Homo sapiens: one gene and its partners. The protein of the gene in region 1 purifies or fractionates together with the protein of each later gene. This does not show direct contact. Each region holds a gene or a part of one and is shown on either strand. Other genes may lie near its edges.

Region 1 (3,500 bases):
GCTAAGGGCTTTACATACATTAGTGGCTAATTCTCACAACAATCCTCCAAGGGAGGTTTCACTATTCTCATTTTACACATAAAGGAACAGGAGTTAAAAGGAGTTAAGTACTTGCCCAAAGTCAGCTGGTTCATCAGGAACCGGGACTCAAGGTCTATGCAATTCCCAAGTCCATGCTCTATTACACCATATTAGCTGGGGGACATAATAGAGCCTTAAAGTGTTCTAAGACCAACAGAAGCAAAACAAGTGAGCTCCAGTTTCCAGCTGGGATCTACAACCTCAGGCAACTGAAGCTACCTAACCTCTATTTCCTCATACATTACAAAAAGAAAAAGAAGTTATCTTCCAACTCTAAGTTTAATGATTCCATCACTTTTTTCCTTTCTTTACTTTCTCTTTTTCCTCCTTCCTCTGCTACCTCCTAATATGGTCCAAAATGTGTTGGATACATCTATATTTTTTAAAGAAAAAGGATCTAAAATTGCATGCAATTATAGCACTGATCTTCCAAACAGAGATTAGACGGGCATGGTTTCTTATGTACTTCAAGAGATCAATTTTTCAGTCAGCTAAAAAAAAAAAAAACACATGGTTCTCCTTAGTAGTCGTTAGAGCAGTACTGGCTTACTGGGATAGAAATACAGTAATACACCACTTTTCAGAATTCAGGTTTCTGGCAACCCATCAGACAATTAACCAGTTCTGGGGAGAAGGGACAGCCAAGAAATATTTCCCAAAAAGACTTTCCTAAATGCACACTCAATTTATAAAGGACAATAATATATTACAAGCTTTTCTCATTTTGCAATCTTATGATCAAAATTGAAAGCTAATTTCTAAGATAATGAAGGACTATATTAGAGAAATAGAGAACATTTTCCATAATAACCTATCTCCTTCTCCACCACCACCACTCTGACAAAAATGGAAAACGAAAAAAACAAACAACAAAAAAAAAGTTGTAATTCTCTAACTTACTACCTTAAAAAAAAATGGTAATGGCCAGGCGCAGTGGCTCATGCCTGTAATCCCAGCACTTTGGGAGGCCAAGGCGGGCAGATCACCTGAGGTCGGGAGTTCAAGACCAGCCTGGCCAACATGGAGAAACCCCATCTCTACTAAAAATACAAAATTAGCTGGGCGTGGTGTCGGGCGCCTGTAATCCCAGCTACTCCGGAGGCTGAGGCAGGAGAATCGCTTGAACCCGGGAGACGGAGGTTGCAGTGAGCCGAGATCACGCCATTGCACTCCAGGCTGGGTGACCAAGGGCGAGACTCCGTCTCAAAAAAAAAAAAAAAAAATGGTAAATATATAGAAACAGTAACCAACCACTTAGGAAGCCAAAAAATAAAATGGTTTTTAACTTCCAGATACTAACCCCCAGTCATGATCTGTTACTAATTCCTTACCCTCTTCTTCTCACCCAACCTGGGGTTGGGGTGGAGATCTAAAATCCTTTACAGATGTTCCATCTAATTTCCAGACAAAATTATTACCTGTTTCCACACCTGTGTCTCCTGAGTGTGTCACCTCGTTAGGTTCAATTATTCTTAAATTTCTCAGTTGAAAATCCTGGTGATTCACCCTTAAGGAGAGAAAGAACAGGAAGTTGCAGACTTTGACCACAATAAACGTGGCAAGGCTCAGTTAGAGGAGGCATCGCTTAACTTAGCAGTTCTCTAACATGAGTCAGAAGAACTTTCACCCCCATTATCAGTGGCAGAATAAATAAAAGTTTGATGTAAAACTTGCAGGTGTAAAACATCCCCATGGCAGGTTAACCTTCTCAGTTGCAGCTTCTAGTTCATAAATTCTCACACCTCCTATTTAACTAGACTAAGAAGACTTATTTTCAATGTTTTTTCCTTACACAAGTTCTATTTGGTTCTTTTTCACATCTGCCCGTTCTTTCTTTATGGTGTCCTATTCTTGCACTCTGGTTTCTATGCCTTCTCTTTGTGCCTTCATTACTGTAGGCCCTTATTTTATAATTTCTCCCATACTTTCAAATAGATCTTGGGAGACTAACCCTCATGTTTGCTAGGTCTGCTGCCTCTCCCTCTTGGTGGTTCATTCCTTCTGCGTTTTGTGATCTTTTATTAAGAGCTTATCTTCAATAGAGGCTATTTATCTATGAGAATGTGATGGGTCCTGGTTTGTACAAGCAGTTCTGTTATTGTTTGCTTCTAAGACTTTCACATTAATTTATTAGCTAGAAGATTTACACACAAACTTCTTGTTCCCATATGGGGATAGTCTAATGCCCTGGACACCAGGCATGAAGGTCTATATCTGCATCTGGTAACTTTCCCAGGCTCAGGTTACTAGCATACCACTCAGGCGTTAGGTTCCCTCTACATTTTTGGCACTTGAGGATTTCTCTTTCTTTCAAGTTCATTCAGTCAACAAATATTTATTGAAAAATCTTCCATAATCCAGGCCCTATTCTGGACACAACAGTGAACAAAACAGACAAGATCTCTGACTTTAACAAATTAAGATGGGGCAAGGCAGGGGGATGGGCAGAAGACAGGGAAGAGAAGGCAACAGACACAAAACAAGTACACAATACGTCAAGTAATAAGAACGTGTTTTGTGAAAAAAAGTAAAGCACAGCAAGGGGAAGAAAGCATCAAGGAGGTAAGGGGAAGGATTATTTCATATGGGGTAGCCAGGGACAGCCTCTATTATAACAGACAACATTTTAACACAGACCTAAAAAGAGTGAGGAAGCAAGCCATGTGAACGGCTAGGGGAACAATGTTCCAGGACAACAGCAAGTGCAAAGGCCATGAGGCAGGAGTATGTCTAGTTTACCTGAGGAAAAGCAAGAAGGTCAGCGCAGTGTGATTGTATCAGGGGATGGGGAGGTAAGTGGTTCAGAGACAACATCATTGAGGCACCAGGGGGCCTACTGTGGGGCCATAGAAAAGGTTTTGAATTTTACTCAGCTATGAACTCAATTAAGTTATAATTTAACCGCATTTTTACATGTTGGTAAAGACAGAGAGGGACACATTAGCTCAGTCTACCACACGGTAAGAACCAGATAACCAGGCAGCTTTACCAATGACTCTAGGCCTGCTTTCATATGGCTGTGACTTTAGTTTTACTGGACAGAATGGGATGTTCTTAACGAGAGTAAACATATTATTCTTTCATAAAAAAGTAAGACACCCCAATATGTCTTCTAAAATATAAATACAAATATCCTCAACAAAATACCAGCAAACGGAATCTAGAACAATATAAAAAGGATCATCATCGCCAAGTGGGTCTTATCCCAGGAATACAAGGTTGGCTCAATATATGAAAAATCAATTATTATAACAGGCCATATCAATAGAATAAAGAACAAAATCTACATGGTCTTCTCAACAAACGCAGAAAAAGCACGACAAAATCCAATGCCCCTTCAAGTTAAAAGTACTCAGCAAACTAGAAGAAAAATTCCTCAACCTGACAAAAGTTATTACAAAACCTACAGCTAACATCAT
Region 2 (3,500 bases), on another chromosome or scaffold:
CTTCGGTCCCCACAGCACCCACTCCCTTCCCAGCCCCAGAGCGCCCGAATGTGGTGCTCTGGACCGTGCCTCTGGGCCACACGGGCACTGCCACCACCGCGGCCGCCGCCTCTCACCCAACGCACTACGACGCCCTCATCCTCGTCACCCCTGGGGCCCCCACTGAGAAGGACTGGGCCCAGGTCCAGGCCTTGCTGCTACCAGATGCGCCTCTTGTCTGCGTGCGCACAGACGGCGAGGGCGAGGATCCGGAGTGTCTGGGAGAAGGCAAGATGGAGAATCCCAAGGGCGAGAGCTTAAAGAACGCAGGTGGAGGGGGATTGGAGAATGCACTCAGTAAGGGAAGGGAGAAATGTAGCGCTGGATCGCAGAAAGCAGGCAGCGGGGAAGGTCCTGGGAAAGCTGGCAGCGAGGGTTTGCAGCAGGTTGTCGGCATGAAGAAATCAGGTGGTGGCGACTCAGAGCGGGCCGCTGCGTTAAGCCCGGAGGACGAGACGTGGGAGGTGCTGGAGGAGGCGCCGCCGCCAGTGTTCCCCCTACGGCCTGGCGGACTCCCAGGGCTATGCGAATGGCTGCGGCGAGCGCTCCCCCCAGCCCAGGCAGGGGCACTGCTGCTGGCGTTGCCACCAGCATCTCCCAGCGCTGCCCGAACCAAGGCTGCGGCGTTGCGAGCCGGGGCGTGGAGGCCAGCTCTGCTGGCTAGTCTGGCGGCGGCGGCGGCACCACTCCCAGGGCTGGGCTGGGCATGCGACGTGGCACTTCTGCGGGGTCAGCTGGCGGAGTGGCGACGGGGCCTGGGGCTGGAACCCACGGCACTGGCTCGACGTGAGCGTGCCCTGGGCCTGGCTTCTGGAGAGCTGGCAGCGCGCGCTCATTTCCCAGGCCCGGTGACGCGCGCCGAGGTGGAAGCAAGACTGGGCGCCTGGGCGGGCGAGGGCACTGCTGGGGGCGCAGCACTGGGGGCTCTCTCCTTCCTGTGGCCTGCGGGTGGTGCAGCGGCGACAGGTGGCCTGGGCTACCGAGCGGCTCACGGCGTCCTGCTGCAGGCTCTCGATGAGATGCGGGCTGATGCTGAGGCTGTGCTGGCACCCCCTGAGCCTGCCCAGTGAGGAGTGGGAGGGGGCTTGGGAGTCCAGACTCTGACAGGGGATGCCTGGGCTTAATCCTGGGTGCTTGAAGGGGATGTGGACTCTTGACTTCCAGCTGGGATGTGTGACTTCTTATCACCTGGATTCAGAGAGTCTGGGGGACAGGAATCCTGATTTTTTTTTTTTTTTTTCTTTTTTTTGTGAGACGAAGTCTCTTGTTGCCCAGGCTGGAGTGCAATGGCGCGACCTCGGCTCACTGCAACCTCCGCCTCCCGGGTTCAAGCGATTCTCCTGCCTCAGCGTCCGGAGTAGCTGGGATTACAGGTGCCTGCCACCACACCTGGCTAATTTTTGTATTTTTAGTAGAGACGGGGTTTCACCATGTTGGCCAGGCTGGCCTCGAACTCCTGACCTCAGGCGATCGACCCGCTCCGGCCTCCCAAAGTGCTAGGATTACAGGCGTGAGCCACCGCCCCTGGCCAGGAATCCTGATACCTTTGGGAACCATGGTGAATGACATCTAGACCCTTCTGTCCTGAAGGGAGTTGGTGGCCCAGACTCTAGCAGGGACTATGTCTTTGTCTCCTAGGGAGTAGAAACTGGAGTTACTGGATGTTTAGTCCTCCAGGGAGGCTGGTAGAAGTCCTGTTTCCTAATTGGTGGGGAGGTGTCCATGACTGGGACCTGAACTCCAGTATAGGGGAGGGAGACCTGAGCGCCCCAGGGAGCTGGAACTCTTGGGCTTCAGAGCCTCAGAGGGAAACAGGGTCTACATTTCTCTGGGAGAAAAAGCCTGCACACAGGTCCCCAAGGAGCAGTGGGCTTTGAATCTTGATGGGGTGGCGGAGGCCCCTGGGGTCTGAGACTTCCGGGGTTCTAAGATGGCTGTGGACCTTGGTTCCTAAATATTGGGTAAGGGGAGGTCTGCATCTGGAGGAGGGATCGGGGGCTTGTGCGAGAAAGCTGGAGACTTCTTGATCTCTCCTGGGGAGTGGATGGGTTTCTATAATTGCCCTCCAAAAGCATGTAGGGAGGGTGGTCCCACAAAAATGAGGTGAGGTGGGTAAGAGGTCTGGGCATGGTGGGCTCTGGGAGTAGCCAGGGACCAGGAATGAGGTCTTTTGGGTGTGGAAGGGCAGTAAAGCATACCTCAGAGACAGCTCCTCCAAACCTTGTATTGGGATCCCGGCAACTGCCTCTGTGAGTGTGACTGGGAAGGGATATGACTGCCTTCATCTTCTAGGTGCTGAGCAATTCAGGTGATCTCTGGGGAGTCTGTTTCTCTGTCTCTTTTCTTTAGGAGTTTCTATCTTTTTTTGGCCTTTTTCTCCTGGTATTTAACCATAACCCTTTATGGCCTTGGTGTTTTGTGCACCTTCCTTTTCAGAAGAGCAGCTGTACTGCTGCACTGGTCCAAACACTTCTGTATGGACACCTCGGGTATCCCCAAGAGGCTCTGCTTTCTGATGTACATAGAGGGTGCTGCATTGAGCCAGGGGCCCACCAAATGGGTGGTCAGGCACTTGAGACCATGGGAATATGCCAGGAGTGAATGAAGCAAAGGCAGAAACCACAGTGCCTGGAATGTTCTAGGCTGCTAGCCACATGTGGGGGAAAAGTTGCAGGTTACAGAATTCTTCAGTGTCAAAAACAGAAAAGGAGGATCTGAGAATCCAAGCGATAGAATCCCTTTTGTCGTAGACAGAAAGAGCAAAGTCCAGAGAGGGCAGGCTTGAGGCCCAACAGCACACAGTAAGGCCCTGTGGGTCTGGCCCTTGCCTATTCTCATTCACTGCCCCTTCCCACTCCTGTCCAGCCTGATAGACTTTCCTTCTTTTTTTTTTTGAAATGGAGTCTCACCTTGTCACCCAGTCTGGAGTACAGGGATGTGATGACTGTAGCTGAGATGACAGGCATGTGCCACCACACCTGGCTAATTTTTGTAGTTTAGTAGAGAAGGGATTTCACCCTGTTGGTCAGGCTGGTCTCGAACTCCTGACCTCAGGTGATCCACCCGACTCAGACTCCCAAAGTGCTGGGATTACAGGTGTGAGCCATCATGGCCGCCTGACTCTTTCTGATGCCTGAGTGGCTACCTTGAGTCCTGCCTGGGGACCCATGCACCTGCTGTTCTCTTTCCTTCAAGGCTCTACTCACAACTTCCTGTTCTACTCTCAAACCTTCCTGTGACGGGCTCAGTCAGATCTCAGCTCACGTATCCCCTCAGAGAGGACTTCCCCTCCCTGACCACCCTATCTGAAGTAGCTCACATTCCCCCACTATTCATTTCGGCCAGTTGAGTTTCCTTGTAGCAATTATTACTGTCAAAAATGATCTTATTTATTTACCTGTTTATTGGCTTTTGACCCGTTGCCTGTCCTGTTCTCTGTTGTTTCCCCAGCATCTAGAACA
Region 3 (3,500 bases), on another chromosome or scaffold:
TTTAAGTTTTGTTATTATGAAGAGTCAAAAAGTAAAAAAAGCCAGGCATGGTGGCAGGCGCCTGTAGTCCCAGCTACTCGGGAGGCTGAGGCAGGGGAATCGCTTGAACTGGGAGGCAGAGGCTGCAGTGAGCCAAGATCACGCCACTGCACTCCAGCCTGGCAACAGAGCAAGACTCCATCTCAAAACAACAACAACAACAACAACAAAAAACTTTAAAAAAAATTAGAAAGTTTATGAAGCAAAAAATTACAGTGAGCTAAGGTTAATTTATTATTGAAGAAAGGAAATAAAAAATAAATTTAGTGTACAGTAATGTTCTAGGCCTTTCCATTCACTCACTACTCATTCACTCACTGACTCACCCAGAGTAATTTCCAGTTTTGTAAGCTCCATTCATGGTAAGGACCCTACTACCATTTTTTATCTTCCATACTATATTTTTACTATACCTTTTCTATGTTTAGATACAGAAAGCCTTACAATTGTGTTACAGTAGCCTACAGTATTCAGTACAGTAACATGCTGGACAGGCATGTAGCCTAGGAGCAATAGGCTGTTTCATCTAGCCTGGGTGTGTACTAGGCTGTACCACCTAGGTTTGTGTAAGTACACTCTGTGATGTTCACGCAAAGATGAAATTGCCTAATGCCACATTTCTGAGAGCATATCCCCATCATTAAGTGATGCATGACTGTATTTATGTCCCTGAAGTGGTCTGTTGACCGTGACAAATAGGTAAAATGTATGCTTTGTTTTTTTCCCAGTTTTAAATTAATTAAAGTTAAAAGAACATTGTATTGGCAGAGTTCTTTAAATAAAAATAAGTAAAATAAGTTAAAATATAGTATATATACAATGATATTACTCAATCTAAACATTTCAATGCTGATGACTATAGTTTCAAACTCATAAATGAATGTTTCATATTGGAAAATTAATTATGGCCTGTATGTTAGATGTTTGGGAACTCTAAAGAAAGATGCTGATAGACATTTGAGAGTGATTTACAAAAATTATTTTCTAATAACTGAAACTTTTCTTCAAATTAGCTTAAACTAAAGCCCAACATAGTCAGACAATGTTAGGTTGGTGCAAGAGTAGTTGCAGTTTTTGCCATTACTTTCAATGGCAAAAACTGCAACTACTTTTGCGCCAACTTAAATCCATTGCTGTTCTGAGTTATGTGGGGTGGACTGAGTGTGGACCCAGCACTTGTCCTATTCAGCCAGGACCTCTGGGTTCACTTGGGGCTCTAGATAGCAGAATTTGTAAAGCCGGAATAGATAAGAGACTCACCACTATTTGATTACATTCTTGGATATGATTAGATATCGTATTAAGAATTTTGGTCCAAGAGAGTTGGAAACAATGATTAATTTAGATTTAGAGAACATGGAAAAATTTAATTCATAGCCTTTGCTTTTTCAGATGTGCCTAAATGAACAGACCTCTTGCCTTTTAATGCCTGGAAAAACCTCAGAGTATGTTGAAACCCTTTTTGTTTGTTTGTTTTTTAGAGATGAGGTCTCACTGTTGCCCAGGCTGGTCTCAAACTCCTGGGCTCAAGTGATCCACCGGCCTTGGCCTCCCAAAGTGCTGGGATTATAGGAGTGAACCACCGCACCCAGCCTTGAAAACCTTTTTTAAATTTTTATTTTTTTTTTAGAGACAGGGTCTCGCTGTGTCATCCAGGCTGAGGTACAGTGGGGTGATCATACCACACTGTAGCCTCTGACTCTTGGGCTCACACAATCCTCCTGCCTCACTCAGCCTCTCAAGTAGCTAAAATTACAGGTGTGTGTTACCACGCCTGGCTAATTTTTTGGGTAGACAGGGTCTTGCTTTATTGTCCATGCTGGTCTCAAGTTCCTGGCCTCAAGTGATCCTCCCACCTTTGCCTCCCAAGGTGCTGGAATTCCAGGGAAAACCTTTTGAAGAGAAAGCTGGGCTCATTTGTCAGATAAAATTTTTAATCCCCTATGTATTTACTGCCGCTTCTAAAGCTGAATTAGAAAATCCACAATGCTGTTTGGAACTATGCCTTTTCCAGCTGTCTGTAGTGTTCCATCGTGTACATAAAGCATATTGAGTTCTTTTTCTCACAAGTCATATTAGTTTTTTGCTATTAATGTCTATGTTGATTCCTGTCTATACTTGTTATACAACTTCTCAAAAATGACTCCTTGGTTCATATTAAATAGTTATCAGAAAGCAGATGTTGTTTCTAGTAGGAAAGCCTGCATACTGTTTAATTGCAAAGATGTCACAGTTTATGTTTCTCTGAATTGTTTTTAGAATTTGCTGGTGACCGGGGCGGTTGACTGTAGTTTGAGAGGCTGGGACTTAAGGAATGTACGACAACCAGTGTTTGAACTTCTTGGTCATACCTATGCTATTAGGAGGGTGAAAGTAAGTTTTCATCTTTTCTTTTATATGTAGAATAAAATTATATAAATATAATCAATGAAGTGTATATTAAAAAGTGTTCTGGGTTTAGGGATTGGAGTTACTAATTCTTTTTTATATGTGTTTTTGTTACCCAATTAATTAGTAGTGAAAGCTAAAATTAGGCAAAAATATTTGAATAATGATTGAATGAATTTGGGCAATGTAGACATTCAATACTTAAGGTTAAATAAAAATCTTTTTCTCATTCTTTCACCTCCAATCTGTTTTTCCTTTAATATATTTTTTTAACTATAGTAATTCACTTTTAGTATTATGTTCTTTATAAGTTTCTAATTAGCGAGAGTCTCTACTTTGTTGAAACAGATGTAAAGAGATGGTTAATTCTTTCTTTTTCCTAACATGATAACATACATGACTGTTCACAGATGTTTGGGATATAGAAAGTTTTCTACTCTGTGAACAGCAGAGGATGAGGTAAATTTTTAATGATGGTCTCAGTAAATTTATCTGGGTTATAAGATGACTTAGGTTGGTTTCCTGGCTTTTATATTTAGGCAGGTTCTGCTAAATGACTGTGGAAAACATCTTATTAAGTGACATCTCCCAATTTCATCCTTTTGTTTTTTTACGTTAAGGATAAAAAAGTACCTTATTGATTATTTTAATAAGGTAATTATGTTATTCCTACTATTTAAAAAATTCTAAATTTTTTTTTCTTTTTTTTTGAGATGGAGTCTTGCCCTGTCACCCAGACACGATCTCAGCTCACTGCAACCTCTGCCTTCTGGGTTCAAGCTGTTCTCCTGCCTCAGCCTACTGAGTAGCTGGGACTACAGGTGTGCACCACCATGCCCGGCTAATTTTTTTGTATTTTTAGTGGAGACAGGGTTTCACAGTGTTGGCCAGGCTGGTCTTGAACTCCTGACCTCAAGTGATCTGCCTGCCTTAGCCTTCCACAGTGCTGGGATTACAGGCTGAGTCACTGTGCCTGGCCAAAAATTCTAAATTTTTAGTTAAGTTAATATTTTAAGTTTCTCTGGCTGCAATGCAACATAGGAGACACAGTGCTCTGTTTTATTTTTTAATAA
Region 4 (3,500 bases), on another chromosome or scaffold:
AAGGCAGGATGGGGAGCTCTCATAGAACAAAAGCAAAACCCAAGGAACTTCAGGATAGCTACCACCTTTGCCAAGGATTGAGCCACCTCAATCATATATCACCTGATTTTGAAATCTTTGAGCTTTTCTGCATTCAGTTTGGCTGTTAAGAAATCTGGAAGTTTTCGGCCCAACTGGTGAAAACTGTACAACAAACATTCCACATAACTGAACTGTAGCTTGGGTTCTTCATTACCAGCATTCTCTCCATTTTCTGCCTCTTCTGGAGGGAGGGGCATGTATTCCTAAGAGAGAAAAATATACAGATTTTGCAATCTGTTCTACATATTCAAATTATAAACAGATATTCAGGGAATTACAGTGCATGTTTTTAAGGCATGGAGCATTAAAAACTACCAAAACCAGACATTTGGATTTCTTTTTTACTTACTGGATCAATGCTCTAGCCTGTCAACGCTCCATATTAACCTGTTACAGCTGCTGTTACAGCTGCTATTATTAATAATGAAGATTAATGTAGCTATCATTTATTAGGCACTTACAGATAAAGGCACTGATGCTCTGAGAGTTAGGGTAACCTTCCCATGGTAACAAAGTTAATAAACTAAAGAGTCAGAATTCAATCTAGATTTGACATCAAATGCTGATGCTCTTAACAACTATACTATGCTTACTACAAAAATATTTTCTGAACGTAAGTCCATATTGTTTAAGTACTGACTCATTACAAGTGAAGTACTGCCAATGGCATTCAGTATCAGTGCTATAACAACCCAGTAAGTTACATCTGGACGAGTGCCAGATGTTGATGACTCAATTCATGCTAAGGACCTAATGCTTATCACTGTGTTAGTTATACAAATACATCAAATAAGAAAATCACTCAGTGATGCTGATAATGATTTTATCAGATGGCCTATTTTCTCCCTAATTATAAGAAACACCAAGATTAAAACAAAGTAGACAACAACATGTGGCCTAGGAAGCTAACAATACTTATTAGGATTATTGTTTAATTGAAATTTCAAAAACTGGTTCTTGTAATCTAGAAATTAATAATAAATTAGACTTTGAGCTATATACTGACTATCCCATAAGGAAAGGAAAAAGTTCTTACCAATAACTTATCAAATAGTTTCCTTAAATTTGTTTCTAGTTTTTCCATGTCACCACAAAATGAACTCATCTCCGCCAACAATTTCAATACCTAAAACACACAATTCACTATTACTGTTTTTTTGAATAAGCAAGGGTTATGAAATGAGAGTAATTCTAGATAACGATTTAAGACTTTATTTTCAATTATGTTTTCACAGAATCATAACATTTGAAATGGAAGAAAACCTTAGAGATAGATGCAGCCCAACATTTTACTGTGAAGGAAAGTAAAGGTCAGAGATTATGTGACTCGACAAAGTCACAGGGTGTAAGTGGCAGGGCAGACCCTAAAACCCAGATCCCATGATTTCCAATATATCTGTGAGAAGAAGTATGGAAAATAATACATACGACACTTTCTGCTACAGGTTAATGATTGTGCTAATTGCAAGGCAAAAATGATAAATATATTAACTATAAAGACACACTTAGTAAGAACTCTCAACAGCTAAGAACTAATTACTCATGGTTAAGGTGGGCCTCATTTCCTGTTAAATTTAGTCTCTGGATACTTACTCAAAATATTGGTAATGACCACTATTCTCAAGGTTCATTCCTGCATTTCCCAATCCCAGTCTGATGGGCCTAGCCCAGCACATTTGAAGCAAACTACCTTGTCAGTGCACAGTGAGATTCTTCTCTATCCCAAAGACCCATGAGGGAAATGGCACACGCATTTCCATATTTCAGTCCAATTCAATAATCACTATTGGGTGCTTGATTCAAAATCAAGTTTTGTGCCAGATTCTGGGGATACAGAGGTGAATCAGATTAAATGTAGGGAGAGATTATAAACAAATGTAAAGTATTACAGATGCTGTGAAAAAATGTTTACATACATTACAGTTGAGATACAAAGTTGGGAGGGGTAGTGAATTCTATTGAAGAAGGAATAAAGGATATTTTGTGTTAATCCAGTTTAAAATTGGCTCTGTCAGTTATGGATAGAAATGAATGAATTAAACACCTTATTTAAAAATATTAAGGCTACAAAAGTAGAGACTGACTATAATAAAACTACAGGTAAGGCTTTCCCATTGCAGCAAACTTTAATTGAATCCATGAAGCAGTCCTAATGCAATTAATTCTGGTCTAGGGAGATTACTGGCTGGCCATTACCAGACATTTAAACTGCTCCCTTAGAAATCGGATCTAAGTTAGTGGTTTACATTTTTGTTAAAATATAAGAATGCCTTATCAGTGCTAAAGCTGAAATTTTTGCTTACCTCCAACTGTATATCAAGACCTTCCACTGGGGTAGTCAAGGTACCGAGGTTAGGGAGAACCTGCTCACAGAAATATGTCACAAACCTTGTGGAATGGACATTTTTCTGTAAGAAATCCAAAGAAAATGCATTGTCGAAAAACAAATATTCGCTCAAATATTATAGCAGAATTTCATTCAATAAATGCTGAGCGCTACAGCATCAAGTATTCTGACTACAAATACGATATAGTGCACACCCCAGCATGCCCCAGATATAACCTCAATAGGTGATCTACGAAGGGGCTTCAATAAGTTCATGGAAAAATGGAATAAAAAGATAAAGAATAAAAAATATAAACTTTATTTATCAACATAAGCTCCATCAAGGTCAAGACACTTTTGCAGGTAATGATACCAGTCATCTCTGAACAACTGAGGGTCCTGGGAACTTAACCATGTCAATGCAGTCTTTTTTATACTATTAACCAAAGAAATGTGGGTGCCCTTTAAAGATGTTTTTTAAGATTAGGCAACAAAAAGAAATCAGAAGGGCCCAAATAAGGACTTTAAGGTGGATGCCTAATGATTCCTCATCAAAACTCTTAAAAAATTGTCCCTGTTTGATGAGAGGAATGAGCAGGAGCACTGTGGCGGTGGAGAACTCTGGTGATGCTTTCCTAGGCGTTTTCCTGCTCAATCTTTGGCCAACTTTCTCAAAACAAGCTCATAATAAGCAGACATTATTCTTTAGCCCTCCAGAATGTCAACCAGCAAAATGTCTTGAGCATCCCAAAAAACTGCCATAGCCCTTCCTCTTAACTGGTCTCTTTTTGCTTGGACTGGGCCCTTTTCACTTCCTGGCAGCCATTGCTTTGACTGTGTTTTGTCTTCAGAATTGCACTGCTAAAGCCATGTTTCACCTCCTGTTCCCATTCTTCAAAGACATGCTTCAGGATCTTGATCCCACTTGTTTACAATTTCCACTGAAAGCTCTGTTCTTGTCTGCAGCTAATCTGAGTGCAATGGTTTTGACACTCATCAGTAGGAAGTTTGTTAAACTTCAATTTTTCAGTCGGAATTGAATAAGCTGAACCAACTGAGATATCGATGATGTTGGCTATTGTTTCTGCTATTA

What was found. The genes of interacting proteins can lie anywhere in the genome.
Region 2: the proteins of XPNPEP1 (region 1) and IRGQ fractionate together in Homo sapiens (co-fractionation; one large-scale study listed by BioGRID). This does not show direct contact.
Region 3: the proteins of XPNPEP1 (region 1) and PEX7 purify together in Homo sapiens (co-immunoprecipitation; one large-scale study listed by IntAct). This does not show direct contact.
Region 4: the proteins of XPNPEP1 (region 1) and API5 fractionate together in Homo sapiens (co-fractionation; one large-scale study listed by BioGRID). This does not show direct contact.

What each region holds. Positions count from the first base shown.
Region 1 is NC_000010.11:109,913,512-109,917,011, forward strand, and holds part of XPNPEP1 (xaa-Pro aminopeptidase 1), read right to left. Parts: intron 1,589-3,500; coding exon 1,500-1,588; intron 1-1,499. UniProt on the Homo sapiens protein: Metalloaminopeptidase that catalyzes the removal of a penultimate prolyl residue from the N-termini of peptides, such as Arg-Pro-Pro. Contributes to the degradation of bradykinin.
Region 2 is NC_000019.10:43,589,635-43,593,134, reverse strand, and holds part of IRGQ (immunity-related GTPase family Q protein), read left to right. Parts: coding exon 1-1,109; 3' UTR 1,110-3,500. UniProt on the Homo sapiens protein: Autophagy receptor that specifically promotes clearance of misfolded MHC class I molecules by targeting them to the lysosome for degradation.
Region 3 is NC_000006.12:136,867,592-136,871,091, forward strand, and holds part of PEX7 (peroxisomal biogenesis factor 7), read left to right. Parts: intron 1-2,298; coding exon 2,299-2,412; intron 2,413-3,500. UniProt on the Homo sapiens protein: Receptor required for the peroxisomal import of proteins containing a C-terminal PTS2-type peroxisomal targeting signal. Specifically binds to cargo proteins containing a PTS2 peroxisomal targeting signal in the cytosol.
Region 4 is NC_000011.10:43,325,496-43,328,995, reverse strand, and holds part of API5 (apoptosis inhibitor 5), read right to left. Parts: intron 2,490-3,500; coding exon 2,385-2,489; intron 1,208-2,384; coding exon 1,118-1,207; intron 285-1,117; coding exon 103-284; intron 1-102. UniProt on the Homo sapiens protein: Antiapoptotic factor that may have a role in protein assembly. Negatively regulates ACIN1. By binding to ACIN1, it suppresses ACIN1 cleavage from CASP3 and ACIN1-mediated DNA fragmentation. Also known to efficiently suppress E2F1-induced apoptosis.